Homo sapiens: one gene and its partners. The protein of the gene in region 2 purifies or fractionates together with the protein of the main gene of each other region. This does not show direct contact. Each region holds a gene or a part of one and is shown on either strand. Other genes may lie near its edges. The genes, in order: ZMYM1, PRUNE2, DYNC1I2 and UBLCP1.

The links.
Region 1: the proteins of PRUNE2 (region 2) and ZMYM1 purify together in Homo sapiens (affinity purification with mass spectrometry; one large-scale study listed by BioGRID and IntAct). This does not show direct contact.
Region 3: the proteins of PRUNE2 (region 2) and DYNC1I2 fractionate together in Homo sapiens (co-fractionation; one large-scale study listed by BioGRID). This does not show direct contact.
Region 4: the proteins of PRUNE2 (region 2) and UBLCP1 purify together in Homo sapiens (affinity purification with mass spectrometry; one large-scale study listed by BioGRID and IntAct). This does not show direct contact.

The regions. Positions count from the first base shown.
Region 1 is NC_000001.11:35,104,824-35,113,643, forward strand, and holds part of ZMYM1 (zinc finger MYM-type protein 1), read left to right. Parts: intron 1-5,470; coding exon 5,471-5,624; intron 5,625-6,948; coding exon 6,949-7,089; intron 7,090-7,263; coding exon 7,264-7,307; intron 7,308-8,153; coding exon 8,154-8,820.
Region 2 is NC_000009.12:76,706,110-76,713,049, reverse strand, and holds part of PRUNE2 (protein prune homolog 2), read left to right. Parts: intron 1-1,691; coding exon 1,692-6,940. UniProt on the Homo sapiens protein: May play an important role in regulating differentiation, survival and aggressiveness of the tumor cells.
Region 3 is NC_000002.12:171,691,641-171,700,460, forward strand, and holds part of DYNC1I2 (cytoplasmic dynein 1 intermediate chain 2), read left to right. Parts: intron 1-1,136; coding exon 1,137-1,254; intron 1,255-8,820. UniProt on the Homo sapiens protein: Acts as one of several non-catalytic accessory components of the cytoplasmic dynein 1 complex that are thought to be involved in linking dynein to cargos and to adapter proteins that regulate dynein function.
Region 4 is NC_000005.10:159,280,786-159,289,229, reverse strand, and holds the end of UBLCP1 (ubiquitin-like domain-containing CTD phosphatase 1), read right to left. Parts: intron 6,019-8,444; coding exon 5,891-6,018; intron 4,327-5,890; coding exon 4,299-4,326; 3' UTR 3,194-4,298; downstream 1-3,193. UniProt on the Homo sapiens protein: Dephosphorylates 26S nuclear proteasomes, thereby decreasing their proteolytic activity. Recruited to the 19S regulatory particle of the 26S proteasome through its interaction with 19S component PSMD2/RPN1.

The DNA of each region.
Region 1 (8,820 bases), on a different chromosome or scaffold from region 2:
TCTAGGAAAATGTGGGAAGTAGTTTTTGGTACCCTTTGGAATAATGTCGATAAGTTGATGAAGATGAAATAGAAGGCTTTTAACGGTTTCTTCTTGCATAAGAATTCATGATAAATGCTATATGGAGATTTTCCTAAATAATCTCAGATCGATTATCTCACCTTAAAGAAAAGGCAGGCAGGCTGGAGCCGGTTTATAAACTAGAAATAAGTATAGCAAAAATAACAATAGTCTGCTGGTCAATAAAACCCAAACACAAAAGTATTTTTGTTTTTATTTTTATGTATTTATTTTATTTCTTTCTTTTTTTTTTTTTTTTTTTTTTTGGTGAGATGGAGTCTTCCTCTGTCACCCAGGCTGGAGTGCGGTGGCGCGATCTCGGCTCACTGCAAGTTCTGCCTCGCGGGTTCATGCCATTCTCCTGCCTCGGCCTCCCAAGTAGCTGGGACTACAAGCACCCGCCACCACCACGCCTGGCTAATTTTTTGTATTTTAAGTAGAGATGGGGTTTCACTGTGTTAGCCAGGATGGTCTCAATCTCCTGACCTCGTGATCCACCTGCCTTGGCCTCCCAAAGTGCTGGGATTACAGGCATGAACCACCACACCTGACCTTATTTATTTTTTTTGAGACGGAGTCTCGCTGTCTTGCCCAGGCTGGAGTGCAGTGGCACAATCTTGGCTCACTGCAACCTCCGCCTCCCAGGTTCAAGCAATTCTCCTGCCTCAGCCTCCCAAGGAACTGGGATTACAGGCGTAAGCCACTGTGCCCAGCTATTTATTTTTTTTATTTATTTTGATTTTTTTGAGACGAGGTCTTTGTCAGCCAGCTTGGAGTGCAGTGGCAATCATGGCTCACTGTAGCCTTGACCTCCTTAGCTCAAGTGATCCTCCCACCTCAGCGTCCCGAGTAGCTGGAACTACAGGCACACACCACCACACCTGGCTAATTTTTAATTTTTTTGTAGAGACAAGCTCTTACTATGTTGCCCAAGCTTGTCTTACAACTCCTGAACTCAGCTGATCCTCCTGCCTTGGTCTCCTAAGGTGCTGGGATTACAGATGTGAGCCTAGCCATGTTTTTGTTTTTAATTCCACGTGTTTAACTCTTACACCAAACAATGCAAAGATGAATCAAGAATGTCACATGTGGACAGTCATGGTGGCTTACACCTGTTATCTCAGCACTTTGGGAGACCAAGGCGGGAGGTTCAGTTGAGCCAGGAGTTCAGAACCAGCCTGAGCAACATAGCAAGAACCTGTCTTTAAAAAAACAAACAAAAAATATCACATGCTTTCTCTGAGTCAGTCATAGGAGGAAATAATCCAGTGAGATTAGTATTATTTGTCCCTATTTCTGATAGACAAGCTCTGGGTGGGTGCTTCTGAGAGCAGAGAAAGAGCAAATGAGATGAGGTGGGACTTCTTAGATATGTTGCTTGTTCATATCATATTTTGAGACCCAACTCTATCCCTATACAGACTTCCTTAAAAACAAGCAGTTGGCCGGGTGCAGTGGCTGATGCCTATAATCCCAGCACTTTGGGAGGCCGAGGCTGGCCGATCACCTGAGGTCAGGAGTTGGAGACCAGCCTGGCCAACATGGCGAAAACCCGCCTCTACTAAGAATACCAAAATTAGCTGGGCATGGTGGCAGGCGCCTATAATCCCAACTACTTGGGAGGCTGAGGCAGGAAAATCTCTTGAACCCGGGAGGTGGAGGTTGCAGTGAGCCGAGATGGCACCATTGCACTCCAGCCTAGGCGACAGAGTGAGACTCCGTCTCAAAAAAAAAAAAAAAAAAAAAAAGCAGTTGAAGATGGGAGTCAAAACAAGCCATAATTCAAATAGATCATTTGTGACTCACATCTTTTCTATGGCCCCCATCTTGAGAGTATCCTGCCTTGGGACCAGAACGGAAAGCACAGAAGACTTCTCCCAAAGGCAGGAAATAATATTCCTTTTTTTTTCTTTCTTTCTTTTTGACACTCAATAGGCCTTGTTCTGGGTTGTTTTTTGTTGTTGTTGTTGTTGTTGTTTGTTTTTTGAGACGGAGTCTCGCTCTGTCGCCCAGGCTGGAGTGCAGTGGCGCAATCTCAGCTCACTGCAAGCTCCGCCTCGCGGGTTCACGCCATTCTCGTATCTCAGCCTCGCGAGCAGCTGGGACTACAGGTGCCCACCACCACGTCTGGCTAATTTTTTGTATTTTTAGTAGAGACAGGGTTTCACCGTGTTAGCCAGGATGGTCTCAATCTCCTGACCTCGTGATCCGCCCGCCTCGGCCTCCCAAAGTGCTGGGATTACAGGTGTGAGCCACCGCGCCTGGCCGGCCTTGTTCTGTTTTTAAAAGCCTATATGCCGGGCACGGTGGGTCACGCCTGTAATCCCAGCACTTTGGGAGGCTGAGGCGGGTGGATCACGAGGTCAGGAGATCGAGACCATCCTGGCTAACATGGTGAAACCCCATCGTTACTAAAAATACAAAAAAAAAAAAAAATTAGCGGGGTGTGGTGGCGGGCGCCTGTAGTCCCAGCTACTCTGGAGGCTGAGGCAGGAGAATGGCATGAACCCGGGAGGCGGAGCTTGCAGTGAGCCGAGATCGTGCCACTGCACTCCAGCCTGGGCGACAGAGCGAGACTCTGTCTCAGAAAAAAAAAAAAAAACCTGTATTGAGTACCCAGTTGTTCAGCTTATGTGATGGGGCAAGACTGATTTGGGTAAACGAGTTAGTTAACAAGCACAGCCTAACACTTTCCCCTTGCATCTGAATGTAAGACATCATGTGACAGTGATAATGGAGTAAATCTACAATGTTAGTGAACTATAATCCAGAATTAGAAAAATGTCCAAATATGTGAATCTAAAAATGGGGTAGCTTTTTATTTTTAAAAAGTGGATTATTAGATGTAATTGTAATTATTTTGGCCATATGTTAATAGAATATATTAAGTTAGCCTTCCCTTATGAATATTAAACTAACTTAATTATAAATGATACCACTATTGGGCCAGGTGCGGTGGCTCACGCCTGTAATCCCAGCACTTTGGGAGGCCAAACGGGAGGATCACTTGAGGTCAGGAGTTCAAGACCAGCCTGGCCAACATGGTGAAACTCCATCTCTACTAAAAATACAAAAATTAGCCGGGCATAGTGGCACACACCTAATAATCCCAGCTACCCGGGAGGCTGAGGCAGGAGAATTGCTTGAACCTGGGGAAGGTAAAGGTTGTAGTGAGCCGAGATCATACCACTGCACTCCAGCCTGGACAACAGAGCAAGACTCTGTCTCAAAAATAAATAAATAAATAAAAATAAATTATGCCACTATTGTTGCTTAACGTTAAAGATTAGTGAATTGTTAAGATTTCTCAAAATATAAAAGTTGTTCATACTAATAAAGGATAAAAATAGAAATTTTCGAAATTATCCTTTTTGTTTTGTTGTGCCTTTGCCAATATCCTGTTCTCTCACAGAAAAATAAAACGTATATGTATTTTTTTGTCTTTGTACTTTGGTGGGTTTTGTTTTGTTTTGTTTTTGTTTTTTTGAGACACAGTCTTGCTCTGTTGCCCAGGCTGGCGTGCAATGGCACGATCTCAGCTCACTGCAACCTCCGCCTCCCAGGTTCAAGCAATTCTTCCATCTCAGCCTCCCAAGTAGCTGGGGTTACTTGGGCGCACACCACCACACCCAGCTAATTTTTGTATTTTTGTAGAGACGGGGTTCCACCATGTTGGCCAGGCTGGTCTTGAACTCCTGACCTCAGATGATCTGCCCGCCTCGGCCTGCCAAAGTGCTGGGATTACAGGTGTGAGTCACCGTGCCCAGCCTGTCTGTGTACTTTGCATCTCCAAAAGCAGTTTTGTTCCATCGGTGATTTTTTTTTTTTTTTTTTTTTTTTAGACTGAGTCTTGCTTTTCCACCCAGGATGGAGGCTGGAGTGCATGGTGTGAGCAAAGCTCACTGGAGGCCCAACCTCAGGTGTTCAAGCAATCCTCCTGCCTCAGCCTCCCATGTAGCTGGGACCACAGGCATGCGCCACCACACCTGGTTAATGTTTGTGTTTTTTGTAGAGATGGGTCTCACTTTGCTGCCTAGGCTGGTCTCGAACTCCTGGGCTCAAGTGATCTTCCTGCCTTAGCCTCCCAAAGTGCTGGGATTACGGGCAAGAGCCACCACACTGAGCCTGATGTATTATTTTTTCTTTCTTTTTTTGAGACAGAGTCTTACTCTGTCACCCAGGCTGGAGTGCAATGGCATGATCTCGGCTCACTGCAACCTCTGTCTTCCTGGGCTCAAGTGATCCTTCCCACCTCAGCCTCACAAGTAAATGGGACTACAGGCGCACGCCACCACACTAGGCTAATTTTTTATTTTTATTTATTTATTTATTAGAGATGAGGTATCACTATTTTACCAGTCTGGTCTCAAACTCCTGGGTTCAAGTGATCCCCCCGCCTCAACCTCTGAAAGTTGAGATTACAGGCGTGAGCCACTGTGCCTAGGCTCTGACATATTCTGAAATCCAGGAATATTGGTTCCTGTTTGACTAGAAAGAATAGGTGGTGAGCATAATCTTTACAGTAATGCCTGCCTTTCAAAGTTTATATCCTTTCTTTTGCATGGTTACTACTTACTGAACTCACAGTACTCTATACTTTCTATTGCTTGTATGCTGCTTTCTTACAATATGCTTGTAATTTTTACCATGAAGTTAGCCTAGAAAAACAGTGATTCCCACAGTATCTTGTAAGGTATTTAAGTTAAGCACTCCTTCCTGGCTCCTCCTCAGCATCGGTAGACATCTTCCCAAGTTAATTCCCAAGCTACCATTGAGGACAGATCTATAACTATATAAGGCCTTTGTTTATCCAGTAGGCTTTGACTGCCTGAAATGAACTTCTGTGACCACTTTCTTCATTGCTTTTTTTTTTTTCCCTTGAAAAGGAGTTTCACTCTTGTTGCCCAGGCTGGAGTGCAGTGTCACAATCTCAGCTCACTGCAACCTCTGCCACCCAGGTTCAAGTGATTCTCCTGCCTCAGCCTCCTGAGTAACTGTGATTACAGGCGCTCGCCACTACACCTAGCTAATTTTTTGTATTTTTAGTAGAGACGGGATTTCACTATGTTGGCCAGGCTGGTCTCGAACTCCTGACCTCAGGTGATCTGCCTGCTTTGGCCTCCCAAAGTGCTGGGATTACATGCATGAGCCACTGCACCTGGCCTTACTGCTTTCATAGGTATTATTATTATTGCTGTTAAATATATCTGATAAATAATAAAAATCATTTTCAGATTTGCCAATATTCTTTTAGTTATTGCAATCTGTAGTGTCTTTTTAAGAAAATGTAAAAACTGTCTTAATTGTTATTCTTTTTAATATTCCAACTAAAAGCAGTGGTAATAGGTTCTTCTTCATTAACAACATATCATATACCAGGAATATGAATATTATTTTAATCTCTAAACAGAAACCTGCCAAACCACTTATATCTGTTCCTTGCAAACCATTGAAGCCCTCAGATGAAATGATTGAGACTACGAGTGATTTGGGGAAGACAGAGCTTTTCTGCTCTATTAATTGTTTCTCTGCATACAGTAAAGCTAAGATGGAATCTTCTTCAGGTAATGTTTGTTTAGCAATTGTAGGGGTTTAGTAATTATTAATAAATAATATTATTTGACTTTAATTTATAACCTTGATTCATTTTCAAATTAAACCGACTTTTAAAAGTCAAAACAATCTAAACTTGTTGCAAAGAACTGTTTTTCAGTATTTTTGTATAAAAGGAAGGCTACTTTACCACCAGAGATTTAATATTTGTAGGCCAAGCACGGTGGCTCATGCCTGTATTCCCAGCACTTTGGGAGGCCAAAGTGGGCAGATCGCCTGAGGTCAGGAGTTTGAGACCAGCCTGGGCAACATGTTGAAACCCCGTCTCTACTAAAAATACAAAAAAAATTAGCTGGGCGTGTTGGTGGGTCCCTGTAGTCCCAGCTACTTAGGAGGCTGAGACAGGAGAATCATTTGAACCTGGGTGGTGGAGGTTGCAGTGAGCCGAGATCGCACCATTGCACTCCAGTCTGGGTGACAGAGTGAGACTCCATCTCAAAAATAATAATAATAAAAATTAAAAGATACATGTCTTTTTTTAGATTATTTAGTAAATGAATATATGTATGTTTACATCAATATATATTGAGCACCTACTGCAAAACATGGTACATAGGAGGCACTTGGTCAATATAGAGTTTAATACATTTACAAGACTGCTTTTATTAGAATATAGAATGTTTTACTTAGCCCTGTTTTGTAAAAACAAGTTTTCATTACATTTTTCACATGAAATAGAAGTGATTGTAAATGCTTTAAGACTCAATAATAAAAAAGCACAAATAATCTGAGCCAACTAAGTATTCCATCAAAAAGCCTCATGTAGGACCAGTGGTGCTATTTACATAGACCATAGAGTGACTAATGCCTCTGGGATTTGTAAGTCATACAAACTGGCTTGTTACAGAAATTTCTGCAATAGTGGCTTGGGCACCAACCTAGCGCTCCATTGATGTTAAGGTTTATGAATCCTGGAAGAGTTTGAAATAGATGCCCATTAGGAGATTCAATCAGAATCTCTTTTCTTCATGAGTAATTTCACAGAAAAATTTGCTCATAATTTTAAACAAATTCTTTAAAAGGACTGGGAAATTGTGTACAAAGGTAAAAGACATAAAATGTTGGAGAAGTGTAAATTTTCAGTGTAATGTTGTAATTATAAATACGATACTAAAGAACCTGGCTATTCCTAAGCCCTAATAAAAATTACTTCAGTACCTACCAATTCCTTAAGCTATTAGATGCTTGCATTATTTCTTTAAACAGTATTACTAAACAGTACTTTCTGATGATTGATTTTGCCTTGTTTATAAGAAATCTTTTTATTGTTGTCAGTAAGTGTTGTTTCTGTGGTGCATGATACTTCAACAGAGCTTCTTTCTCCAAAGAAAGATACGACTCCAGTTATAAGCAATATAGTGTCATTGGCAGACACCGATGTTGCCTTGCCCATCATGAACACTGATGTCTTACAAGGTAAAAGTTGATGTTAAGATATTTGACATAAATATTGTTTTGTCATACTTGATAAATCTGTCTATATGCTAAATTTTCTTTTTGTTTCTTATATGAAATAAGCAAATATAGTTTATGATGCTATTTTATAGGTTATAGTATATAAGATCTTGAATTTATGCTCTATTTTAACAGATACAGTTTCTTCAGTAACAGCAACAGCAGATGTCATTGTGGATGTAAGTTTTAACTTTTTTTACCACTGTCTTTTTTTAATAAGCAGATTTTTGTTGTTGTTGTTGTTGAGACAGAGTCTCGCTCTGCCACCCAAGCTGGAGTGCAGTGGCGTGATCTCAGCTCACTGCAACCTTTGCCTCCTGGGTTCAAGCGATTCTCCTGCCTCAGCCTCCTGAGTAGCTGGGATTACCAGCGCCTGCTACCATGCCCAGTTAATTTTTGTATTTTTAGTAGAGAAGGGGTTTCACCATGTTGGCCAACCTGGTCTCGAACTGCTGGCCTCAGGTGATCCGCCCACCTTGGCCTCCCAAAGTGCTGGGATTACAGGCATGAGCCACCACACCTGGCCCAGATTTTTTATATATATATATAATATATACTATAATATATAAAAATATAAATATATAATATAAATATATTATAATATATTGTATATAATATAAATATATTATAATGTATATTTATTATATATTATATTTATATATTTAATATATATTTTATGTATTATGTATTCATATATGGGGTGTGTGTGTATGTTTGTAGATTGTTTAAACAGAAGTATTTTTTTCCTCTGGGTTCTTCTTTTAAAAAAATACTACACAATTTGAGTCATCTGAGCAATAAAAATTATTTTTATGACAATTACATACCAAAAGGTCCTTCAAACATTTAATGCTGAATCTAGATTGCAAATAAATAAGTTATACGTAATTGTTAACGTTTCCCCCTAGTGGAGCTCATACTGTAACTCAGCCATTTATTTTACTATGTTATTAGAGTAGATATATTTGATATTTTAATTAATTTTTGAAAACTGTTAAATGTTCTTTTCTCATTTTCTCCCAAAGCTTTCTAAGAGTTCACCTAGTGAACCCAGTAATGCTGTTGCTAGTAGTAGTACGGAACAGCCAAGCGTTTCACCATCTTCATCAGTATTCAGTCAGCATGCAATTGGTTCCAGTACAGAAGTACAAAAAGACAATATGAAATCTATGAAAATAAGTGATGAACTATGTCACCCAAAATGTACATCCAAAGTACAAAAAGTTAAAGGTAAATCACGAAGTATTAAAAAATCTTGTTGTGCAGATTTTGAGTGTTTGGAAAACAGTAAAAAAGATGTGGCATTCTGTTATTCATGCCAGTTGTTCTGCCAAAAATATTTTAGCTGTGGAAGAGAGTCATTTGCAACCCACGGAACTTCTAATTGGAAAAAAACCCTGGAAAAATTCAGAAAGCATGAAAAAAGTGAAATGCATTTGAAGTCATTGGAATTTTGGAGAGAATACCAATTTTGTGATGGAGCTGTCAGTGACGATTTATCTATTCATTCGAAACAGATTGAGGGAAATAAAAAGTACCTAAAGCTTATAATTGAAAATATTTTATTTCTTGGAAAGCAGTGTTTACCCTTAAGAGGAAACGACCAGTCAGTTTCATCTGTGAATAAAGGCAATTTTTTAGAATTGTTAGAAATGAGAGCAAAAGATAAAGGAGAAGAAACATTTCGACTTA
Region 2 (6,940 bases):
CATCGGATATACCAAGCCAGGTGTACTTAATAACTAATATGAGAACATACATGATTCATTATAATAGGAGCCACACGGGGCCCCAGATGCTTCATTACTTATTTCTCTTCACTAATGGATTCAATGCCTTATGTATCCATGGGTGGCTAGAGGCACAGTCTCTGCCCCTTTCTTTTCTACATCCTCCTTTCTGTCCCCCAAGAGCTCCACTGTAGCTCTCTTGACCCATGCCTATGGGTACTCTCGGGCTCTCTCAAGTCCGAATGTGAAAGAGCATCTCCTCCTCTGACCTGCATCACCAGCCTGTGGTTTTTTCATCACTTTCCTCTGCATTTGGTTTCAAAGCTAAATTTCATCTTTGGTCACTGGCTTCCCAGGGACGGGATTTAGGCCTTGGAAGCCTACAACATGGCGGCTTTCACATCACTTTTAGCAGTAGACCCCTTTTTCAAACCAATGTGAAAATTGGTTCATTGGAAACAGACAAAAGTAGAAGAGCAGATGAAGGAGTTAAAAGCTCTTGAGTTGACCCCAGTCCTCCTCTCTTCTCCCCACCCACCCTCCCCATCCTAGCAATAGCCAGAGGTGGATCGCTGGAATCTTAAGCAACAGAGTCCTGGCTCTGGCCTAGCGAGTTCCTCTTGGCCTGTGTGGTCACACCACTGGCCGAGTCAGCCTTTGCAGCTAGGTTGCCTGGGTACAGAACTCAGGCTCCAGCACTTGTTAGCTGTGTGTTGCTGGACAAGTTATTTAATCTTCCTGTATCTTCATTTCTTCATGGGTAAAATAGGAATAAAAAGAGTTCCTACCTTGTGGAATTACTGTGGTGATTAAAAGAGATAATGATCATAAAACCCTTAGAACCATGCCTGGCACATGAAAGCACTCAATAAATGTTAATTAGTAGTAGTAGTAGTATCTATGTGAGCTCCATGGTGGTAGTGGTGGTTGTTATTATTATTATTAATTTTATCTCTACTAATCCCGTGGGGCCATTTCAAAGGCCCAGCACAACAAAATACTCCTGACATTCCTTAAAAATCAGAAAGCCGTAACCCAGTTCTGGCCTCACACTGACCATCCGTCAGTGTCCCCTTGCCTCCCAGGTTAGCTTTGCCTGTTTTGGGCTCCATGCCTCCGTTACCTGGGGTGAAAGGGACTGAGGGGTCCTGAGTGCTGTTCGGAAAGATCAGACTGCGGGAGCATCTTTGTCTTTCCTACTCTCTCTTTTGCATTCTGAAGCTATCAGAGGTTCAAGCAGCCCTGGCTGCCCCCTCCCAAACAACAGCCTGTCTCCTGATATTGTCCCCTTATTCCAACACTTTTCCTATAGTTGTCAGCAACATGCATTATCTCTGCTTTTTTGCAACTCGAATTACATTGCTATTGGAAGATGGTATTATATTACAGTTAGGAAAGAATAGGTGGTTTAAACTCCTTTACCCAAACGTTCAGGAGCCTTCAAAATCGAGCACCTGGATTTTGAATTAAACAGAGAGACAGTTGGATAGAATTGGAGAAAGGGTTGGTGGTACAGTAATCAGAACTTTCTAAGTTTGAGATCTTCTTTTTCAGACAGATGAACACAGATTAATTTTATATTTAAAAATTAAGCGAGATAAATTGCAAAGTGCAATTGCAAAGTGCAACAGTGCTTGAGTGCTGACACAAATTCCTGTGCCTTCCGACAGATTTGCTGTGAGCTGGAAGAGTGTCAGAACCCTTGCCTAGAACTGGAGCCCTTTGACTGTGGCTGTGATGAGATCCTGGTGTACCAACAAGAGGACCCTTCAGTGACTTGTGATCAGGTGGTTCTCGTTGTCAAGGAAGTCATCAACAGGAGGTGTCCAGAGATGGTCTCCAATAGCCGGACATCCTCAACAGAAGCCGTGGCAGGCAGTGCCCCCCTCTCCCAGGGGTCTTCTGGGATTATGGAATTGTATGGTTCTGACATAGAGCCACAACCCAGCTCTGTGAATTTCATAGAGAACCCTCCAGATCTCAATGATTCTAACCAGGCTCAGGTGGATGCCAATGTAGACCTTGTTAGCCCAGACAGCGGACTGGCTACCATTAGGAGCAGCCGCTCATCCAAGGAGAGCTCTGTTTTCCTCAGTGACGACAGCCCCGTGGGAGAAGGTGCTGGGCCTCACCACACCCTTCTCCCAGGGCTTGACTCCTACAGCCCCATCCCTGAAGGGGCGGTGGCGGAGGAACATGCATGGTCTGGAGAACACGGTGAGCACTTCGACCTCTTCAATTTTGACCCAGCACCCATGGCTTCTGGGCAGTCCCAGCAATCTTCTCATTCTGCAGACTACTCCCCAGCAGATGACTTCTTCCCCAACAGTGACCTGTCAGAAGGACAGCTCCCCGCTGGGCCTGAAGGACTTGATGGCATGGGAACCAACATGTCTAATTATTCATCCAGTTCACTTTTGTCAGGGGCTGGCAAAGATAGCCTTGTGGAACATGATGAGGAGTTTGTCCAGAGACAAGACAGTCCCAGAGATAACTCTGAAAGAAATTTGAGCCTGACAGATTTTGTGGGAGATGAATCCCCTTCCCCAGAAAGGCTAAAAAATACTGGAAAGAGGATCCCACCAACACCCATGAATAGTTTAGTAGAAAGCTCGCCATCCACTGAAGAACCAGCCTCACTCTATACAGAAGATATGACCCAAAAAGCAACTGACACAGGTCACATGGGGCCACCTCAGACCCATGCACGGTGCAGCAGCTGGTGGGGTGGTTTGGAAATTGACTCCAAAAATATTGCAGATGCGTGGAGTTCCAGTGAACAGGAATCTGTTTTCCAGAGCCCTGAATCATGGAAAGAGCATAAGCCAAGCTCCATTGATAGGAGAGCCTCAGATTCTGTATTTCAACCAAAGAGCCTCGAATTTACAAAGTCAGGTCCCTGGGAGTCTGAATTTGGTCAGCCTGAACTGGGTAGCAATGATATTCAAGACAAAAATGAGGAAAGCTTGCCGTTCCAGAACCTGCCCATGGAGAAGTCACCTTTGCCAAATACATCTCCCCAAGGAACAAACCACCTGATAGAAGACTTTGCTTCTTTGTGGCATTCTGGTCGCTCTCCCACAGCCATGCCCGAGCCCTGGGGAAATCCTACAGATGATGGTGAACCAGCAGCTGTGGCGCCATTCCCAGCCTGGAGTGCATTTGGTAAAGAAGATCATGATGAAGCTTTAAAAAATACCTGGAATTTGCACCCAACAAGCAGCAAGACACCTTCTGTTAGGGACCCGAATGAGTGGGCCATGGCAAAAAGTGGGTTTGCCTTTTCTTCTTCAGAACTACTGGACAATTCACCCAGTGAGATAAACAATGAAGCAGCTCCAGAAATCTGGGGCAAGAAAAACAATGACTCCAGGGATCACATCTTTGCACCTGGAAATCCCAGTTCTGATCTGGATCACACATGGACTAATTCTAAGCCACCAAAAGAAGATCAGAATGGTTTAGTGGATCCTAAAACTAGGGGCAAGGTATATGAAAAGGTAGATTCCTGGAACCTTTTTGAGGAGAATATGAAGAAAGGAGGGTCAGATGTCCTAGTTCCTTGGGAAGATTCCTTCTTATCTTACAAATGTTCTGATTACAGTGCATCCAACCTAGGAGAAGATTCGGTGCCTTCCCCCTTAGATACCAATTATTCCACCTCAGACTCTTACACATCACCAACATTTGCTGGAGACGAAAAGGAAACTGAACACAAGCCATTTGCTAAAGAGGAAGGTTTTGAGTCAAAAGATGGTAACTCCACGGCAGAGGAGACTGACATTCCTCCTCAGTCACTGCAACAGTCATCTCGAAATCGAATCAGTTCAGGTCCTGGGAACCTAGACATGTGGGCTTCACCTCATACAGATAACAGTTCTGAAATAAATACCACTCACAACCTGGATGAAAATGAACTCAAGACAGAGCACACAGATGGTAAGAATATCTCCATGGAGGATGACGTCGGGGAAAGCAGCCAGTCCAGTTACGACGACCCCAGCATGATGCAACTGTACAATGAAACAAACCGACAACTCACACTTTTGCACAGCAGCACCAACTCCCGGCAGACGGCCCCTGACAGTCTCGACTTGTGGAACAGAGTGATTTTGGAGGATACTCAGTCCACTGCAACGATCTCAGATATGGACAATGATTTGGACTGGGATGACTGCAGTGGGGGTGCGGCAATCCCCAGTGATGGTCAAACAGAAGGATACATGGCTGAAGGTTCCGAGCCGGAAACCCGATTTACAGTGAGACAGCTGGAACCCTGGGGCTTGGAGTATCAGGAAGCAAATCAGGTAGATTGGGAGCTCCCTGCCTCTGATGAGCATACCAAGGACAGTGCTCCCAGTGAACATCACACATTGAATGAGAAAAGTGGGCAGCTAATTGCAAACAGTATTTGGGATTCTGTCATGAGAGATAAAGACATGTCATCATTCATGTTACCAGGCTCCTCACATATCACAGATTCAGAGCAAAGGGAATTGCCTCCTGAAATCCCCAGCCATTCAGCAAATGTTAAAGACACTCATTCCCCAGATGCGCCAGCAGCCTCTGGAACCAGTGAATCAGAGGCACTTATATCTCATCTTGACAAGCAGGACACAGAGAGGGAAACCCTGCAAAGTGATGCAGCATCCTTGGCGACTAGGCTTGAGAATCCAGGGTATTTTCCACACCCAGATCCATGGAAAGGTCATGGCGATGGACAAAGTGAAAGTGAGAAGGAAGCCCAGGGAGCCACTGACAGGGGGCACCTTGATGAAGAGGAGGTGATCGCCTCTGGTGTGGAGAATGCCTCAGGGATTTCTGAAAAAGGGCAGAGTGACCAGGAACTGTCTTCTCTGGTTGCATCTGAACATCAGGAAATCTGCATTAAATCAGGCAAAATCAGCTCTCTTGCTGTCACTTTCAGTCCTCAAACCGAGGAACCAGAGGAAGTTTTAGAGTATGAGGAGGGGTCTTACAATCTAGACTCCCGTGATGTGCAAACAGGGATGTCCGCAGATAACCTGCAGCCAAAAGATACCCATGAAAAACACCTCATGAGTCAAAGAAATTCAGGTGAAACTACTGAGACTTCAGATGGGATGAATTTCACAAAATATGTATCTGTACCTGAAAAGGATCTTGAGAAAACTGAAGAATGTAACTTTCTAGAGCCAGAGAACGTGGGTGGAGGGCCACCTCACAGAGTTCCCCGAAGTCTTGATTTTGGGGACGTCCCTATAGACAGTGATGTGCATGTCAGCAGCACATGTTCTGAGATAACCAAAAATCTTGACGTTAAGGGGTCTGAAAATAGCCTTCCAGGAGCCGGTTCGTCTGGAAATTTTGACAGAGATACTATTTCTAGTGAGTATACTCATTCAAGTGCATCAAGTCCTGAGTTAAATGACTCTTCAGTTGCACTGTCCTCCTGGGGCCAGCAACCCAGTTCTGGGTATCAAGAAGAAAACCAAGGCAACTGGAGTGAACAGAATCACCAAGAATCTGAACTAATTACCACTGATGGCCAAGTAGAAATAGTTACCAAAGTGAAGGATTTAGAGAAAAACAGAATAAATGAGTTTGAAAAGAGCTTTGATCGCAAAACTCCTACATTTTTAGAGATCTGGAATGACTCAGTTGATGGTGATTCCTTTTCCTCTTTATCCAGTCCTGAAACAGGCAAATATTCTGAACATTCAGGGACACATCAGGAAAGCAATCTAATTGCTAGCTACCAGGAGAAAAATGAACATGACATTTCTGCAACTGTGCAGCCAGAGGATGCCAGGGTCATTTCAACAAGCTCAGGTTCTGATGATGACAGTGTCGGTGGTGAAGAGTCAATAGAGGAAGAGATCCAGGTGGCCAACTGCCACGTTGCTGAGGATGAATCCAGAGCTTGGGATTCATTGAATGAATCTAATAAGTTCTTGGTCACAGCTGATCCTAAGTCTGAAAATATTTATGACTACCTAGACAGCTCAGAGCCAGCAGAGAATGAGAATAAGTCAAACCCATTCTGTGACAATCAACAAAGCAGCCCTGATCCCTGGACTTTCTCACCATTAACGGAGACTGAAATGCAGATTACAGCAGTGGAGAAGGAGAAGAGATCTTCTCCAGAAACAGGGACAACAGGAGATGTTGCATGGCAAATATCTCCCAAAGCTTCGTTCCCAAAGAACGAAGATAATTCTCAACTGGAAATGCTGGGCTTCTCAGCTGATAGCACTGAGTGGTGGAAGGCCTCACCCCAGGAAGGGAGACTAATTGAAAGTCCATTTGAAAGGGAGCTGTCTGACTCCAGTGGTGTGTTGGAGATAAATTCTTCAGTACACCAAAATGCCAGTCCCTGGGGAGTACCAGTTCAGGGTGATATTGAGCCCGTGGAAACACACTATACTAATCCTTTTAGTGACAACCATCAGTCACCCTTTCTGGAAGGTAATGGGAAGAACTCCCATGAGCAACTCTGGAACATTCAACCAAGGCAGCCAGACCCAGATGCTGACAAGTTCAGCCAGCTTGTAAAATTAGACCAAATTAAAGAAAAGGACTCAAGAGAGCAAACCTTTGTGTCTGCTGCTGGTGATGAGCTGACTCCTGAAACACCTACCCAAGAGCAGTGTCAGGACACCATGCTGCCAGTCTGTGATCATCCGGACACAGCCTTTACTCACGCAGAGGAAAATAGTTGTGTTACATCTAATGTTTCAACTAATGAAGGTCAAGAAACAAATCAGTGGGAACAAGAAAAATCATACCTAGGTGAGATGACAAATTCAAGCATTGCCACAGAAAATTTTCCTGCTGTCAGTTCTCCCACCCAACTGATAATGAAGCCAGGCTCTGAATGGGATGGCTCTACCCCAAGTGAGGACTCCCGAGGTACCTTTGTGCCAGATATTTTACATGG
Region 3 (8,820 bases), on a different chromosome or scaffold from region 2:
TGACTGGTAGAAGCATGATTCAGGTTGGCAGAGCTATTCCAAAATAATATTTATATCCCTAAACATTTCCGTGCTGAGAGCAAATTTCATTTTTGTTTTCTAATGATGGCCATAACTGGCAAAAATGGGTTCTAAGGGATATCTATTGCATGATTTATACCTAATTTAAAGCTTGTAAAACTTATTGAGTCACACAGACCAATGGGAAAAAACAAAGTTTATAAAAATGTTACAAGAGATAATACAATGGTATTAAACTGTGAGTCTATTAATATATTTTTATCAACAGTGAAGCATCAGCTTGATATTACAACCTGTTTTGTTATTTTGATTAATTTTTCTGATGACTTTTAAGTCAAAATGGCATAGAATATTATGGCTAACAAAATTCACTCCAGACAGTGTCTGAGTAATAGTTGTCTAGGTGGCATAGGGATTTGAGATTTACATAAAAAAAACTTTTCCTTGGAAAGCTTACATTTTACTTGAGAAGTCTTGGATGATCTGAGAGTATTGAGGTTTATCTAGTTTAACCAGCAGATTGTGCTAAAACGATAAATAGCCGAGATAAAAGCTGACAAAAATTTTCATAACAAAATGTTTTGTGCTATGCAAAAGTGAGTTTAATTTTACAAAACACAATCCCAAATAAAATGAAGACTTTATACAGAAGTTTGTGATACTCTTTTTCAACAAATCATATTGTCATTCACTTAAAATTTGTTACCTCTTAAATAATTACACTTTAATTTTTTCATTGTATGTGATATTGTATCTAACCTTTTGTGCCACTTGGGGGAAGTTGTCTATTATTCCTGACCATAGACAGCAATTTCATACTGTAGATAATTCGAAGTTGACTGTACTTCTTGAATTTGTCTGTTAGGAAAATTTTTGTGGAAACTCCTTGATTACATATGAAGATAGAGCAGTTTAGTACATATCATTTGAAGGTTATTTACTAGAACTCTATTGAGAATGATTTTCATTTAATGACTATAAAAAGAACTTAACCTGTACTCAAAACTAAGTTCATGCCTTAAAAGTATACAGTGTTAGCATATTATTTAAAACATTTTTGCAAACAAATTTTTCATACTATATGTAAACATAAGTTTTTAACCTAAACATTTTAGACAGACCAGAAGAAGGAAGCTGTTGCTCCTGTGCAAGAAGAATCAGATCTTGAAAAAAAAAGGAGAGAAGCTGAAGCATTGCTTCAAAGCATGGGGCTAACTCCAGAATCCCCCATTGGTAAGGTTAAGAATATATCCATTTATAAGAGATAGGCATAGATTCTGTTCAGCTCAGACATAGCTGAGTGGATTGACTTGATATATTTTACATATTTTCCTTGTGTCTCTAAAATTATTAATCTTTTATTTGGAATTGTCTTTTTTTCAGATATGCTAGTACATGGTTATTTTATTTGTTCAAAAGAGCTGCAAGAGTAATTATTAACATATACTGAACTACCAATTGACTTCTCTTATTAAATCAGTAATTTATTTCAACAAACATTGGTTAAGCAAGTTTTATGTGCCATACTGTGTTAAGCTCAAAGATAACTAGGATTCCTGATCTGAACTCTATATTCCTTTCTGGAGATTAGCGAGAGATACAATCAGACTTATATTGTTAGAATGCAAAATATATTAGTATTCAAAGGTACAGGAGTGGAAGGATAAGCTTATAGCCTTCTGCTGTTAATGCTAATAAGGGAGATAATTTTGTGGCTTATTTTCGAAGTGATTTGACTTAATCTTATTATTTTTCTGGGTTATTCATTTTGATAACTGTACTAGACCAAAAAAGCTGAAATAGTAGAGGTACACAGGACAATCTAGTTACATATCAGGAACAAATGCTTACTTAAAATAGTTCTGTGCTGGGTGCTATTATGTAGTATTTTAGTTTAACATGGCCTTTATCCTTTAGAGACCTAACATTTTAGGGCTAGTTGGTGGGCTAATTTTATCTAGTCCAGGGGACAAATACTGGAGATTGTAAATGCTCTATGCTTGTTGTGAAACTGCAACATAACTGTCCTTAGAGCTGATATTTCTAAAAGGTTTCAAGATGAAAAGGCTGGCTACTCTCATGGTCAGCTTCATTGTTATTTCTTTCAGCTCATTTTCCTTTTCTTGTAGAATTTGAAGACTGAAGTATATTAATTTTATGTATTTATTCAATAAGCTTATGTTGAACATGCAATTTTAAAAGTAAATGAATCAGAACACTTAATTTCTTGTAACTAAACCAAGTTGCTTGTTAGCCTTTGTTTGAGTTACCTTTTTTTTCTGTGCTTTGGCTTTTGTTTTTCTCCTATAGGATTTTTTTTCTTTTATGTTCTTCTTAAGACTTTAGTTTCACTGAACTCACTTGTTCATATTTCTTTCTTCTTTTTTTTTTTTTGAGGCTGAGTCTCACTCACTCTCCCAGGCTGGAGTGCAGTGGCACAATCTCGGCTCACTGCAACCTCCACCTCCTGGGTTCAAGCGATTCTTCTGCCTCAGCTTCCTGAGTAGCTGGGACTACAGGCTTGTGCCACCACGCCAGCTAATTTTTGTACTTTTAGTAGAGACAGGGTTTCACCATATTGGCCAGGCTGGTCTCGAACTCCTGACCTCATGATCCACCCACCCCTAAAGTGTTCATATTTCTTAATTTATGGCTGGGTTAGTTCTTTGTGTTGCTATAAAGAAATACTGAGGCTGGGTAACTTGAAAAGAGGTGGCTGGGTGGGGTGGCTCACGCCTGTAATCCCAGCACTTTGGGAGGCCGAGGTGGGCGGATCACCTGAGGTCGGGAGTTCAAGACTAGCCTGACCAACACGGAGAAACCCCGTCTCTACTAAAAATACAAAATTAGGTGGGCGTGGTGGCGCATGCCTGTAATCCCAGCTACTCAGGAGGCTGAGGCAGGAGAATTGCTTGAACCTGGGAGGCAGAGGTTGTGGTGAGCTGAGATCTGGCTATTGCACTCCAGTGTGGGCAACAGGAGTGAAACTCCGTCTCAAAAAAAAAGAAAAGAGGTTTAATTGGCTCATGGCTCTGCAAGCTTTACAGGAAGTATGTTGCTGGCTTCTTGTGGCAAGGCCTCAGGAAGCTTCTAATCATGGCAGAAGGCAAAGGGGCGTCAGCATGTCTCATGCAGTGAGCAAGAGCAAGAGGTGGGGGGAGGTGCCACACAGTTTTAAACAAAACCGTGAGGGATCCGCCTCCATGACCCAAACATCTCCCACTAGGCCCCACTTCCAACACTGGGGATTACATCTCAACAAGAGATTTGGAGGGGATGTCCAAACTGTATCAATGGCCCATCTCCATCATTAATTCTTGAAAGACCATTCTTTAGGGTTTGTGTATGTGTCCCTCATTTCTCATCTCTAATTCCATTCTCATTCCCACTAATGCATTAAGTGACCACTTTTGCAGTTTTTGTTTGTTTATTTGTTTGGTTTTTGGTTTTTTTTTTGAGACGGAGTCTTGCCCTGTCGCCCAGGCTGTAGTGCAATCACGTGATCTCAGCTCACTGCAACCTCCACCTCCCGAGTTTAAGCGATTCTCCTGCCTCAGCCTCCCAAGTAGCTGGGATTACAGGCACGTGCCACCACACCTGACTAATTTTTTGTATCTTTAGTAGAGACGGGCTTTCACCACGTTGGCCAGGCTGGTCTCGAACTCCTGACCTCATGATCCGCCTTCTTCGGCCTCCCAAAGTGCTTGGATTACAGGTGTTAGCCACCATGCCCGGCCCACTTTTGAATTTTTAACATACATCCTTCAGATTATCCTCTGTTTTTCAAGGTTTCACATATCTCTGTGTATATATACTTTATATATATAAATGGCATAGTGCTGTATGTCTTTTGTTTATTCCATGTTGCTATATACGTATTTAGTCATTTATTTCTAATATATAATATCCTATTATGTACCACATTTTACTTATCCATTCCCCCAGTGCTATGCACTCAGTTTCCTTTTGTCTCTTTGCTTTACTATCATAAGCAACACTGCAAAAAATATGTGTTTTTTCCCTTGAGGACTGTGGAATACTTTCTCTGGGGTGTATCCCCAAGAATTTACTTGCTATGTTATTGTATATAAGACTTAGCTTAATTAGGTTCTGCGTGTCACTCTCCAGAATGGCTACAAAGTTTACCCGCCCGCTACCAGTGCATGAAAAAGTAACTGCTTTACCATATTCACATGATGACTGGATATTATCCAGCTTTCTAATTTTTGCTAACTTGATGAGTATAAAGTGGTACACCAAAATGTTTTAATATACATTTATCTGATTACAGTGAGGTTGACCACCTCTTTATATATCTTTTAACCATTCAAGTTTTCCCTTCTGTGAACTGCATATTCATGTCCTTCTCCCCATTTACTATGATTGAGGTTCTTTATCTTCTGATGTATAGGCATTCTTTGTGTATTTTGTATATTTTAGGGAGGACTTTTGTCTGTTTTAGTCTTTTTAAAAACCCTTCTAATCTGTTAACTGCTTATAATATTCTTCATTGAACAGAATCCTCTATTTTGATATGATCAAATCCTTCATTTTGATATGATCAAATCTAGCAATTACAGGCTAAGTATTCCTAATCCAAAAATTCAGCATTCAAAATGCCCCAAAATCTGAAACACTTTAAGCACCAACATGACACTCAAAAGAAATACTGATTAGAGAATTTCAGATTTCAGATTTTTAAGTTAGGATACTGAACTGCTAGGTATAATGCAAATAGTCAAAAATCCAAAATAATCTGTCACCTTTGGTCCCAAACATTTTGGGTAAGGGATACTCAACCTGTATAACCCTTTTTTGTGTGCTTTTGGTCTTTTTTAAAAAGAAATTGTTTCCTACATTGTGGATGCAAATATATTCTTCTATGTTTTTCCTATTAATTTTATAGTTTTACCCTTCACATGTAGATATTTGGGTTATATTTTTAAAAATAGTATGAGGTAGGGATCCAACCTAATTTTTCTCTATATAGGTAGCTAATTTTCTCAGTGCCATTTGTTAGTCTATCTTTTCCCCCACTGAAGTCCGATGCCAACTTTGTCATACAGTAAATTCCCATATATTTATGGGCATTTCTGGGCTCTCTATTTTCACTATGAATCTATTTGTTTGGTTCTACACAACCCAGTTTTAATTACTGCACCTTTGTATTATATTCTAATTTCTGATACAGAAAATCACCCCCTTTGTTCCTTTTACAAAATAGTCCTAGGTTCACAAACATTTTTCTTTCCTCAAGAAATTTAGTTTGTTTCCCTCCAAAGTGTTGCTGTACCATACATACATTGCATTGCTATATGTTTTTATTTTTCTTAATTATTATTATTATTATTATTTTTGAGACAAGGTCTTGCTCTGTCACCTCGGCTGGAATGCAGTGGTGCAACCATGGCTTGTTATAGCCTCAACCTCCCAGGCTCAAGCGATCCTCTCACCTCAGCCTCCCAAGTAGCTGGGAACATAGGTGCACACCACCATGCCCAACTAATTTTTTTGTTTTGTTTTTGTTTTTGTTTTTTTTTATAGAGATGGGGTCTCACTATGTTGCCAGGGCTGGCTTTGAACTCCTGGGCTCAAAGCGATCCTCCTGCCTTGGCCTCCCAAGGTGCTGGGATTACAGGCATGAGCCACTACACCCTTCCTAATTTTTAAAAATCTTGAATATTCTCCACACACATACTACTTTTTGCCTCATGATATCTACTTGTTGAAGAGGGTGGGCCAATTGGTTTGTAGACTGTCTCCCCTCCTGGGTTTGTCTGATGGCATTCTCACATTTAGCTTTTATCCCTTATATTTCCTTTAAACTGGAAGTTAGATTTAAAAGCTCAATTTTGATCTAATTCGAACTGTGTGTGGTGGTTCACACCTGTCATCCCATTACTTTGGGATATGAGAGAGAAAGGAAGAACGAAGAAAGATATTTGGGAGGCTGAGGTAGGTGGATCACTTGAGCCCAGGAGTTCAAGACTAGCGTGGGCAACATGGCAAGACCCTGTCTCTACAAAAAAAAAAAAAGAAAAACAAAATTAGCCAGGCATGATAGCAGGCACCTGTAGTCCTAGCTACTGTGGAGGTTGAGGTGGGAGGATCAATTGAGTTTGCAAGGTCAAGGTGCTGGCCATGATCGCACTACTGAACTCTAGCCTGAGCGACACAGCAAGACCCTATCTCAAGAAAAGAAAAGAAAAGAAAAGAAAAGAAAAGAAGCTTGATTCACTTTAGGCTGAACTTTTTTGGCAAGAAAATCTCATAAGTGATGTTGTGTCCTTCATATTGTATCATATTAGTAGCACATCTCTGGCTATTGAGCAATGCTAAGCTTGATTATTGGGTTACAATTGTGATAACCTGATCTCTCCATCATAATTAGCCCCTTGTGACTAATAGGTAATATCTGAGGGTGATACTTGGGCACTATGTGACTATTAATTTCTTTATCAGCCTTTTATCTGATGGTGTTAATACTCATCGATGATCCTCATCTAAGTTATTTAATTAAGAGTTGCAGCATTGTTTTTGTAATTCTGCCATTCTTTCTGCATTTATTGGCTAAAGCTCTTCTGTAAAGGGGAGCTTTCTCTCAATAACTAGGGGTTTTGGTTACCCTAAATGTTAGAAAAGCAGGAGACATGTTTACTTTTTTGCTTTAATTACTCATAGTCACCTCTAGGCATGGCAGATGAGTTTTTGCATGTATTTTATCTCTTTTTTTTATTTTTTGAGACAGGGTTTCACTTTGTCACCCATTTTGGAATGCAGTGGTGCGATTTTGGCTCCCTGCAACCTCCGCCTCCCAGGCTTAAGCAATTCTCCCACTTCAACCACCCGGGTAGCTGGGACTACAGGCATGTGCTGCCACCACACCCAGCTAATTTTTAAATTTTTAGTAGAAACAGGGTCTCACAGGCCAGGCACGGTGGCTCACACCTGTAATCCCAGCACTTTGGGAGGCTGAGGCGGGCGGATCACGAGGTCAGGAGATCGAGACCATCCTGGCTAACATGGTGAAACCCCATCTCTACTAAAAATACAAAAAATTAGCCGAGTGTGGTGGTGGGCGCCTGTGGTCCTAGCTACTTGGGAGGCTGAGACAGGAGAATGGAGTCAACCCGGGAGGTGGAGCTTGCAGTGAGCCGAGATGGCGCCACTGCACTCCAGCCTGAGTGACAGAGCGAGACTCTGTCTCAAAAGAAAAGAAAAGAAACAGGGTCTCGCCGTGTTGCCTAGGCTGGTCTTGAACTCCTGAGCTCAAGCAATCCACCCACCTCAGCCTCCCATAGTGTTAGGATTACTGGTGTGAGCCACCACTCCTGGCCTGCATGTATTTTAAAAATAGATTAGCTAGGCTGGGCATGATGGCTCACGCCTGTAATCCCAGCACTTTGGGAGGCCGAGGCAGGCAGATCATAAGGTCAGGAGTTCGAGACCAGCCTGGCCAAAATGGTGAAACCCCGTCTCTACTAAAAATACAAAAATTAGCTGGGCATGGTGGCAGGCACCTGTAATCCCAGCTACTCTGGAGGGTGAGGCAGGAGAATCGCTTGAACTCGGGAGGCAGAGGTTGCAGTGAGCCGAGATCGCGCCATTGCACTCCAGCCTGGGCAACAGGGTGAGACTCCGTCTCAAAAAAAAAGAAAAGGAAAAGATTAGCTAATATTTTATTGAGGGTTTTTTGTATATGTACTAATGAATGAAATTTGCCTTTGATTTTCTTATACTATCCATGTTCATTGGTCATCATGGTTATGGTTTTAAAATAAATTGGTCAGTTTTTGCTTTTGCTATTTTGTAGAATAATTTATAAAAGATGCCTGTTTCTTAAAAGCTCATTAGATTTCCATTTTAAAACTGCCTTGATTATGACTTTTTTCTACAGAGAGTAGAGAGCAGGGGTTATTCATCATTTGGAGTGTGTGTGTGTGTGTGTGTGTGTGTGTGTGTGTGTGTGTGTGGCGGCGGGCGGGGGTGCAGTTTAGAGACAGGGTCTCAGTCTGTGGCCGAGACTGGAGTGCAGTGGTGTGATCTCAGCTCACTGTAGCTTCAGTCTCCTGGGCTCAAGTCCTCCTGCCTCAGCCTCCTAAGTAGCTGGGACTACAGGCAGGTATCACTATGCCTGGCTAGTTTAAAAAATTTTTTTTTGTATAGATGGGGTCTCGCTATGTTACCCAGGCTGGTTTCAAGCTCCTGGCCTCAAGTGATCCTCCCGCCTTGGCCTCCCTAACTGCTCAAGTTTTTTTAATGGTTATAGTCTCTTCAGATTTTCTATTTCTTCTTATGTCTGTTTTTTTCTCCCCAAAACAATAAACATTTATTATCTCTTATAGTTTCTGCTGGTCAAGAATTTGGTAGCAGCTTAGCTAGGTGGTTCTGGCTCAACTTCTCTCATTGGGTCAAAGTCAAGATTTCAGTTAGAGCTTTAGTGATCTGAAGTCTTGACTGAGGCTCGAGGACTTGCTTTCATGGTGGTTCGTTCACATGGCTGGCAAGTTGGTGTTGGTTGCTAGTGGGACAGCTGAGTTCCCATCCTCGTGGGCCACTCCACGGATCTACTTGAGTATCCTGGTAGCATGTTAGCTGGGTTCTCCCAGAGTGAGCAATCGAAGAGAAAAAGAGAGTCAGAAGAAAACTGTCCTTTTTATGACTTAGATTTGGAAGTCACAAAGCATCACCTCTGCCACATTCTGTCCATTGGAAGAGAAACACTAAGTCCAGCCCACATTCACAGAGAATTTACCCATAAATCAAAGTCACAAATTTTTGAGGGATTTTCTGAGAGAT
Region 4 (8,444 bases), on a different chromosome or scaffold from region 2:
TTCAGTCATAGTCACTTTAAGGTTGGGGGTGGAGGGAGAGGGACAGCTGGACTTCCAGTCCAAACCAATACTAAATGGAATTTGCAGACGTAAAAGCAGCTGGATACTTACCAAAAGATCTAGGTCTTCAGAGGTTTCCTTATTCTCCTTTCCTTGATTATTTAGAAATCTTAGGAAAACCAAGATAGTATTTGTAAAATTATCAAGAAAAGTCTTCCTTTTAAGATTTCACTTTTGGTAACTATATTTCAGGAATGATAGGGCTCGATGATAGCAACATGCTCTGTGCTACTTTTAACATCTGACATTCATATAAGCCTTTGCTGCTTCCAAGTCCTTCCATGGGAACTGTCTCATTTGACTTTGCCACAGCCTATGGGAAAGGCAGACAGGTGCAGAATTTTTTTAAGTAGAAGGAAGCAAAAGTTAAATGAGTTGAAGTGACTTGCCCAAGGTCCTGTTGCCAATAAAGAGGGATTTTAGTCACATGTTTTTCTGACAAACCACTGGCTCTTTCAAAAGCCTTATTTAGGAAGCTACAGCAGTTCTCCTCACAGATTATCCAACAAGAAGTAATAGCAATCAGTGCTCCAGAGAATTAAGAACTGGGAATAAAAGTAAGAGGGATTTGTATTCAATTAAATAATTGATTTACCTCTAGATTCCTGAAAAGTCATCAGTTTGGCCTTTAGTGTAACAAATTATACACATACACTAATGTGTGTTCATCATAGCCATATTGGTTTATGGAAACATCATTAAAGCTTAGCAGTCTTTGTTTTTGATATTTTTAAGGTTTTGTTTCTACTGTTTACAAATGTTCTTAAAAGCTGTAAGTTCAGCTTTTAAAGCTTTTTGGAAGCAAACCAGCATTTTAATGAGTAACAGTTCATATCAGGAAATATCCTTATGTTTGCATTTAAGTGCTTGCTTACTTCCAAAGTGTTTTTACGAAATTATTAATGTGGGAGGTGTGCAAGATTTTAAACACTTTACATGGAAGCTCATTGACATTACTAGATAACTGACACCATTTTTAGCCCTACAGGATGCTTCGTATTGATTTCAGTTCTTATAAGGCACTAATTTCTCAGAAGTCTTTGCTAAATCTATGAAACTGATTACAAAAAGATTCTCTTAAGATTTAAACACTAAGCACTCTGAAGAGATGCCTGCAATCCCAGGATCACTGCAGCATTATTTACAATAGCCAAGATATAGAAAAAAACAAAGTACTTATCAAGGGATGAATGGATTTTTAAAATATGGTGTATATATATATGAATACTATTCAGCCTTAAAAAACTCAGGAAATTCTGTCATTTGTGACATGAATGAAGCTAAAGGACATTATGCTAAATGAAATAAGCCAGGTACAGAGAGACACAATACTATCTCACTTATACGTAGAAATCTAAAAAGTCAAACTCACAGAAGCAGAGAGTAAAAGCGGTTACCAGAGGTTGGGGAGGGCGGTGGTGGTGGATGGGGAAAGATGAGATGTTGGTCAAAGAGTACAAAGTTTCAGTTTAATAAGAGGAATACATTCTGGTGATCTATTGCACAGCATAGTGACTACAGTTAATAATAACGTATACTTCAAAACAGCTAAAAAAGAGGATTTAAAATGTTTTCACTACCAGGAAATGATAAATATTTGAGGTGAATATGCTAATTAGCCTGATTCAATCATTCCACATTGGATATATGTATCAAAACACTATATTGTACCCCATAAACAACTGTCAATTAAAAATTTAAAATATTCAGATGTCTCACCAAGACTCACGTAGCAAAACTAAATCTTTACATAAATATCTAAGCATTTAATCTTCACAGACATTTCTTGGGCTAGTTCATAAGAAGATTGAATTTTGATGTAAAATACTTCATTGGAGACCATAACAGTTCGTCCCTTGAGAGAGCTCTGTTGAGTACTTGGGATGAGAAAACTCAACCGTTTATTATTCATGTTTTATTACCATTCTGACCACCCAATTGTTATTAATACCTAAAAACCAAGCAATAACCTAAAATGCAACTAATCTGCGTTTTTTTGCATATCCTTTTTTCCCAGTCCCTATCCTGTAGTTCCTCTTCCTCTCAAGGAACTATTTTACTTTCCATGAATAAAAAATAAGTTTCAGTTGCTTACTGTAACAACCTGTTTTTCCATTCCTTACCTTTTACACTGAAGAGCTGCTATAGGTATCATTAGTCCAATAACTGATTTCGGTAACAAAGACCTGAGGGGAAATTAGAAACTTCCCTCTGAATCAAAGATTTACTGATGTTCTGTAGTTTTTAGGCTAAATATACTTCGTATAATACTGTTTTAATGCTTAACACATGTATCTGATAAAAATAATTTGTGGTTTCACCAAAATATGCATCCAAATTAAGTGATCTATTGATTCAATTGTGTGTGCCACACACATAGATATATAGAGATGGAGCTGTTCAATAAGCCATGAGATGCAGAAGACAAATGAAAACTCCCACACTCTATAATGGTATTAATCACATATAGCACGTTATCTCAACAAGCTCAATGACAATGTTCTCCGGAGTGGCTTAATTAAGCACAGCAGCTAAGAAGCTTTGGTTTGGGCACCACCTAATGGCAGAATATGTTTTTGTAAAATTCTACTTTGCTCCCTGTGATTTGCTAACTTTTGTATTTTAGTTTATACTGATTTCGAAAATGTCTGCCCGTTCTTGACCTATGTTAATAGTTTAAGTGTTCCATTTTCTTGAGAAGATTAAGCCCTTTCCGTGCGTACTTTGGAATAAGTTGTCTTTTACAGTGGGAAAAATGTACCAATGAAAAATGAATACTCTAAAATTTCTGTTCTATCCTTAAATATTTAAATTTTACTTCATAATTAAGAAATATATTTTAATTGAATCACTTTAGAGTCCTCAAACTCTTCTGCACTGTATATCCTCAAAACCTGTCACAAAGAAAATAGTATATATTTCTGAAAAAAGGTACTTATTAGAATTAAGTAATTTTATGTATCTGATTAGCTGCTAAAACTACTCCTGAATGTATAAATAGTGATATACACACCTTTAACATCACCATACACATTTAAGTTTTTGCAAGAGATCCTTGCCTGAATATAATGTTCATTTTGTCATTCAACAAAGAGGTAAAATATATGTGGTAATATAGAACAGATAACGAATGTTTTAAGAAAAGATATTTATTATTTACACCACTGAAATTAGTCCTGTAAGAACAATATACACCATGTTTCTTTAAAAGGATCAATTCCTTTCAAATACAAGAACTGTATAAAGCAATATTGTCAACACAAAACAGTGGTCACATTACGTATCTGCAGGCTTAAGCATTGCAAATAATATATTTTTTTAATCTTATGGCTAGATATTTTCACTGAAACAGTGTTAGCACTTAGACAAGATATAGCTGGAACAGAACAAAAACTTTTTGTTCATGCTTTTTAGGAATGAATCAGTGATATGTCCCTTTTAAAAATTTATTGCCTTTAACTGCTTTTATGACAATGGTTTTAGGAAGATTCTACTTAGCCACCAAAAAGAGACTCATTCTTGTTCCTTAGTTTTTATTCTTCAGTCTTCTGTTTCTCATACTAAGACACAGCTGTGTCAAGACTGACATTTTCCAGCTTTACTTGGACATGTACACACATACAGGCCTAACTGAGACCGCTCAGAATTTAGAAATGTAACTAGTGGCATACAGAAGAGAAATTGTGTCTATGACAAAGAAATAAAAAATTCTTGGTAATTTTAAGCATAGCAAACTAGGTTCTTTAATTAAAAAGTTTTTTTTTGTTTTTTTTTTTGGTTTGTTTTTAAAGGGAAAAGTACTAGTTTCAACATGGGTTTGGTTTTAGATTTAGTCAGACAATAACACAATGAGACAAAAACACAAAACATAACTTGTTTCCAAAGTCACAAAATGACATTGTTGAGTATACATTTTTCTCCACTTTGTGTGTGTGTGTGTGTGTGTGTGTGTGTGTGTGTGTGTGTGTGTGTGGTGGGAGGGTGGGGTGGTCAGTAACCAACGCTGGAGAAAATATTTTTCAAGCGTAACAGAATATTCATATAGGGGACAAGCATTTTTTAGCATATTGCTATCATCTTCAAAAAATATAAAATTAAATTTACAAAAAACTGGAAGACCAAGTATAAGCAGTATGGTATTTGCTTCAGTGTCCAGCACTATCATAATGATTTCTAGCATAAAAGCAAGAAGTTCTTGGATCTTAAGTATCTTCAATAACTGCCAGTATAACTTGTAACTACTGTCCTTGCTTCTTTGAGAGATATCTGCAAGAAATAAAATAAAGATGTCAAAGCTGTATCATGCTAAATTCATGAAGATAACCTAACTTTGCTCCCAAAGGAGTTTGTTCTAATGACAAAACATTTCAAGATGAGTATTCTTAATAGTCACTTACATCTACTGATTATGTGCACGCACAGTTCTAAGTACATGTATTAATTCATTTAGTCTTCACAACAGCTCTGAGGAGTTACTATTAGAATTATTCCTATTTTACAGGCACAAAGAGGTTAAGCAATTTGCCCAAATTCACACAGCTAGAAAGTGGAAGAGCCTAGATTCAAAACAAGGCTCCAGAGGTCATACTCATTGACTACCACTCCATACTGCCTTACTTCCAATGTGAAAGTCACTATATTAACTAGTATTGTAACTTCCAAATACAGATCAAACTCCATAAAGATCTTATTTTTGTTACATCAAGACAGTGGGCAAAAGATGCTAAAGGTCTTTGATCAAGAGTGTAAAAGATATAAGACATTACTAAGCAAACAAGTGTTTTTCATATTGTTTAATAGAAATCTACCACTAAATTAAAAACTTGATCTCTATTTCTAACATTTACAAACTACTATAATTGGTGGTGTGGGGATGGGGAAAGAGTTCCTAAAATCAGCAAACTTGGACATGTTTTGCTGGTACAATTTGCTCACTTTGTGGCACTGCACTAAGTATTTACTATCTCCATGACTCAGTTACATCATTTGCAATTTAAAGATGGGGGTAAAAATGTCTGCTTTATCTTCCTATTAGGATTATAGACTCTTAGAAGACTTGTGTCAAACTGATCTGAAAAGTCAAAAGTGGAATCTGAAAAGCCAAAGTGTTATTATTACACAAATAGTTTCTTTTGGTGCTGTATTACTGGAACCAGATCCTCAAAGATCTAATTCCCCCCCAAATACTGTAATACATAGTAATACCTTCCACTTCTCTGGGGACTTTTCTCTGTCTCAAAACCTTGATGTTTATAGGCAACGTCTATATAGATTTGTGCAAACATTTGGGTTTAGATAAAAGACTGAAAGACTATATACCAAGATGGTAACAGTGGTTATCTTTAAAAAGGAAAATTATGAGTAATTGTTTTTTTAGTAGGATAAACTTTTCTAATTTCTCTGCTACACTCAAGTTACTGGTAATTTTTAATACTATTTATGAAATTTTTACATGTGTTTTATCTTATCCTGACATTAAGTTACAGTATGAGAAGAGGGATTATATTCCATGTGATTCATAAAGGAGTAGCTTACCTAACATCACAAAATAATTTACAGGCAGCATCACCAACATATGCTAGTCTCTCAAGTTCTCTCTTCTAGAAGTATTAAAGAGTTTACAAGAGGTATGTTTATGAACAAGTTAGAGGTTAAGATGAAAGGGGAAAATACTTTTGGGGGTAGGTCACTGGATTAGAAAATGTTTTTAGAAGTCACCTATTTTAAATAAAAATTAAGACAGCTATATATATACTGGGGTCACTGATGAAAAATGATAATTTTTTCTTCATTGATGTAAAGAGAAAATAAATAAGCAATTAAAACTTACCTTTCCCAATATTTGTGATTTAGATCCAAAAAGTCATCTAATTTTGCTATCTCCTTGAGGTACTGAGTTAATTTTAAAAGTTCTTTGTCTTTATCACGATTTAGGTGCGCTTTCATAAAAGGCCTTATCTATTAGGAAACAAACATTACTCAACACATCACAATGTGATAAGGAAAACTAACAAATCTATACTATCATTTCAATTAGAGTTAATGAGGTTAAAATATCACCAAGAACATAAATACTAAAAATTACTTTTATATTAGCCTAAATAGAAAGTCATGTATAATGTTTACAAATTACAAACTCTTCTACCTATTTTACCTAACATTATCTTTTCAATCTGAACCTGACAACACCAGCTTTCTTATTGCACTTGAATCCATACACAGCTACTCTACTTTGCAAAACTACTTAGCCTTTCCCGCCTCCTATCATTCTAGTTGCTTCTAATTAATTTCATTCACATTATTTTATTCATAAAAATTTAACCCCAATACCAGCTTGATCTAACAGTACAGTGAGATAAATTTTAACGATGATTTTTATTTTATTTTTCTATTAAATTTTTATATAGCTGAGATATCATTATACATTTATATAACCTGTTTCCTCCTACATTTTATCATAAGCATTTTTCTTTATCATTAAATTCTCTGTTAAAATCATTTTTAATTATGCAAGAGTTTTCCATAAAAAGAACTGCCATATTTTCCAAATGTTTAAGGCTGATCTATTTTATGATGAAAAAGAGTTTAAAAAGCATTATTTCAAACCACACATGTCAGAATAATAGACCGAGGTAGGGGACTGCAATTAGTAAGGAATACCATATCTTGACTTGAGTGGCGGTGCTATGAATGCATATGTTTATATGCAATCTTCATCTAGATTTGTGCATAAATCTATGCTTAAAAAGACTAGAGGACTATAAATCAAGATGGTAATAGTGTTTATCTTTGGAAAGGAAAATCATGAGTAATTTTAGTGGAATAAAATTTTTTACAAGAATTATCTTTACAGTTTGTTGAACTATAAATTTATGCACTTTTCCTTATTTTATAGCTTCAGTAAAGAATTCTGCTGTTTTGTAAAAGACACCTGCTCAAATATCTTTATACAACTCAAGATAGTCTTTCAATAATTTTAAATTAATTTTAGATAATATGATATGACTAAGATTTACTTCAAAATATTAAGGAGAGGGAAGTAGCGTATAGAGCAAACAATAACCATCCATGAATTAATAAGCTAATTTAAACTGAATGATATCTACATGGGGGTTTAAGCAATTTTATATAGTTCTGTTTACATTTGAATTTTTCTGTTATCGTTAAAAAAAAATCATACATATTCCTAAAGCACACATATTCCTAAAGCACACATGTAAGGACTGATTTCATCATACTTAGCAAAGTATTAGTATATTCTTTTGATTTGGAGAAAATGCAAATTGGTCATTAGTTTTTTTTTTTTTTGGTCATTAGTTATTAATTTTACACAGTTAACACTGAAAAATGAATGATATTTAATCATTGTCACTTACTGAGAAGCAAGAACAATGAGTGAGCCCAAAGGAGTCTACTACCATACCTATTAAGTGTAGGGAAGGGTTTAAGTATTTTTTACATACTTTTCTTCTGTCATTGGAAAAACACCACCCATCTGAAATGGACAGAAGAAAATTTTCCCAGGTGTTCTACTCTCATCAGAACAGCTTGGTGCCAGTGACCTCCACACTGTTAGCTGGCTCCCATACTGCTTGAAGGGCACCAGTCAAGAGCTGTCAAAGGGAGTCTCCTCAGAAATCAGCATTTGTGGGAGATCCCACTTCCAAAAAGGTAGTGCAGCAGTGCTGTTTCCGAGCAGCAGTGAATGTGGGGGCTGAAGACGACGCTTTACAGGGCCTTGCTTAGGCCCTGGGGATGGGAGTAAACAGAGTCATGATATGAGGATGTAGTGAAATGAGTTTCTGCATAATCCTGGGTGATATGGTAATGTTTTAAAGTATTCCTTCATTCACTTCCTAAGGACTGAAAGGTAACAAATTAACTTTTAAGCAATTAATATATAATGTACCAAAGTGTCCAAATTTAAACAGCAGGAAATTACAGGGTTGGTGGGTAGTAAATAAGATTTTCAACCCAAGGCTCTGCTAAGTTATTTTTACTTTCCAAACATTTGCTCTTAAGCACTATTAAACAACAAAACTAAAATATTCTAATGATTCTGGTTCTAAAATTTTAAATAAACAAATTAAGGGTGAAAATCTATGCACCTAATTGACTTCACTTGCTCCAGTATAACCACTGTTTACTGTACATTTTTAAAAACTGATCTAAGTGATCACTAAAAGGACAGGAAACCATCATCTTGTCTCAGGTCAAGGAAGCATTTTTAGAAACTTAAGACTGTCTAGATAAGCTGAATTCTCCTATATCATAATTTCCTTGTACAGACAATAAAAATGGAGTTTTCAGCCGATAAACTGCTTTATCCATGACCAAGATTCACATTCTTTTAGTGTAATTCTAAATTCATATTCACAGTACCT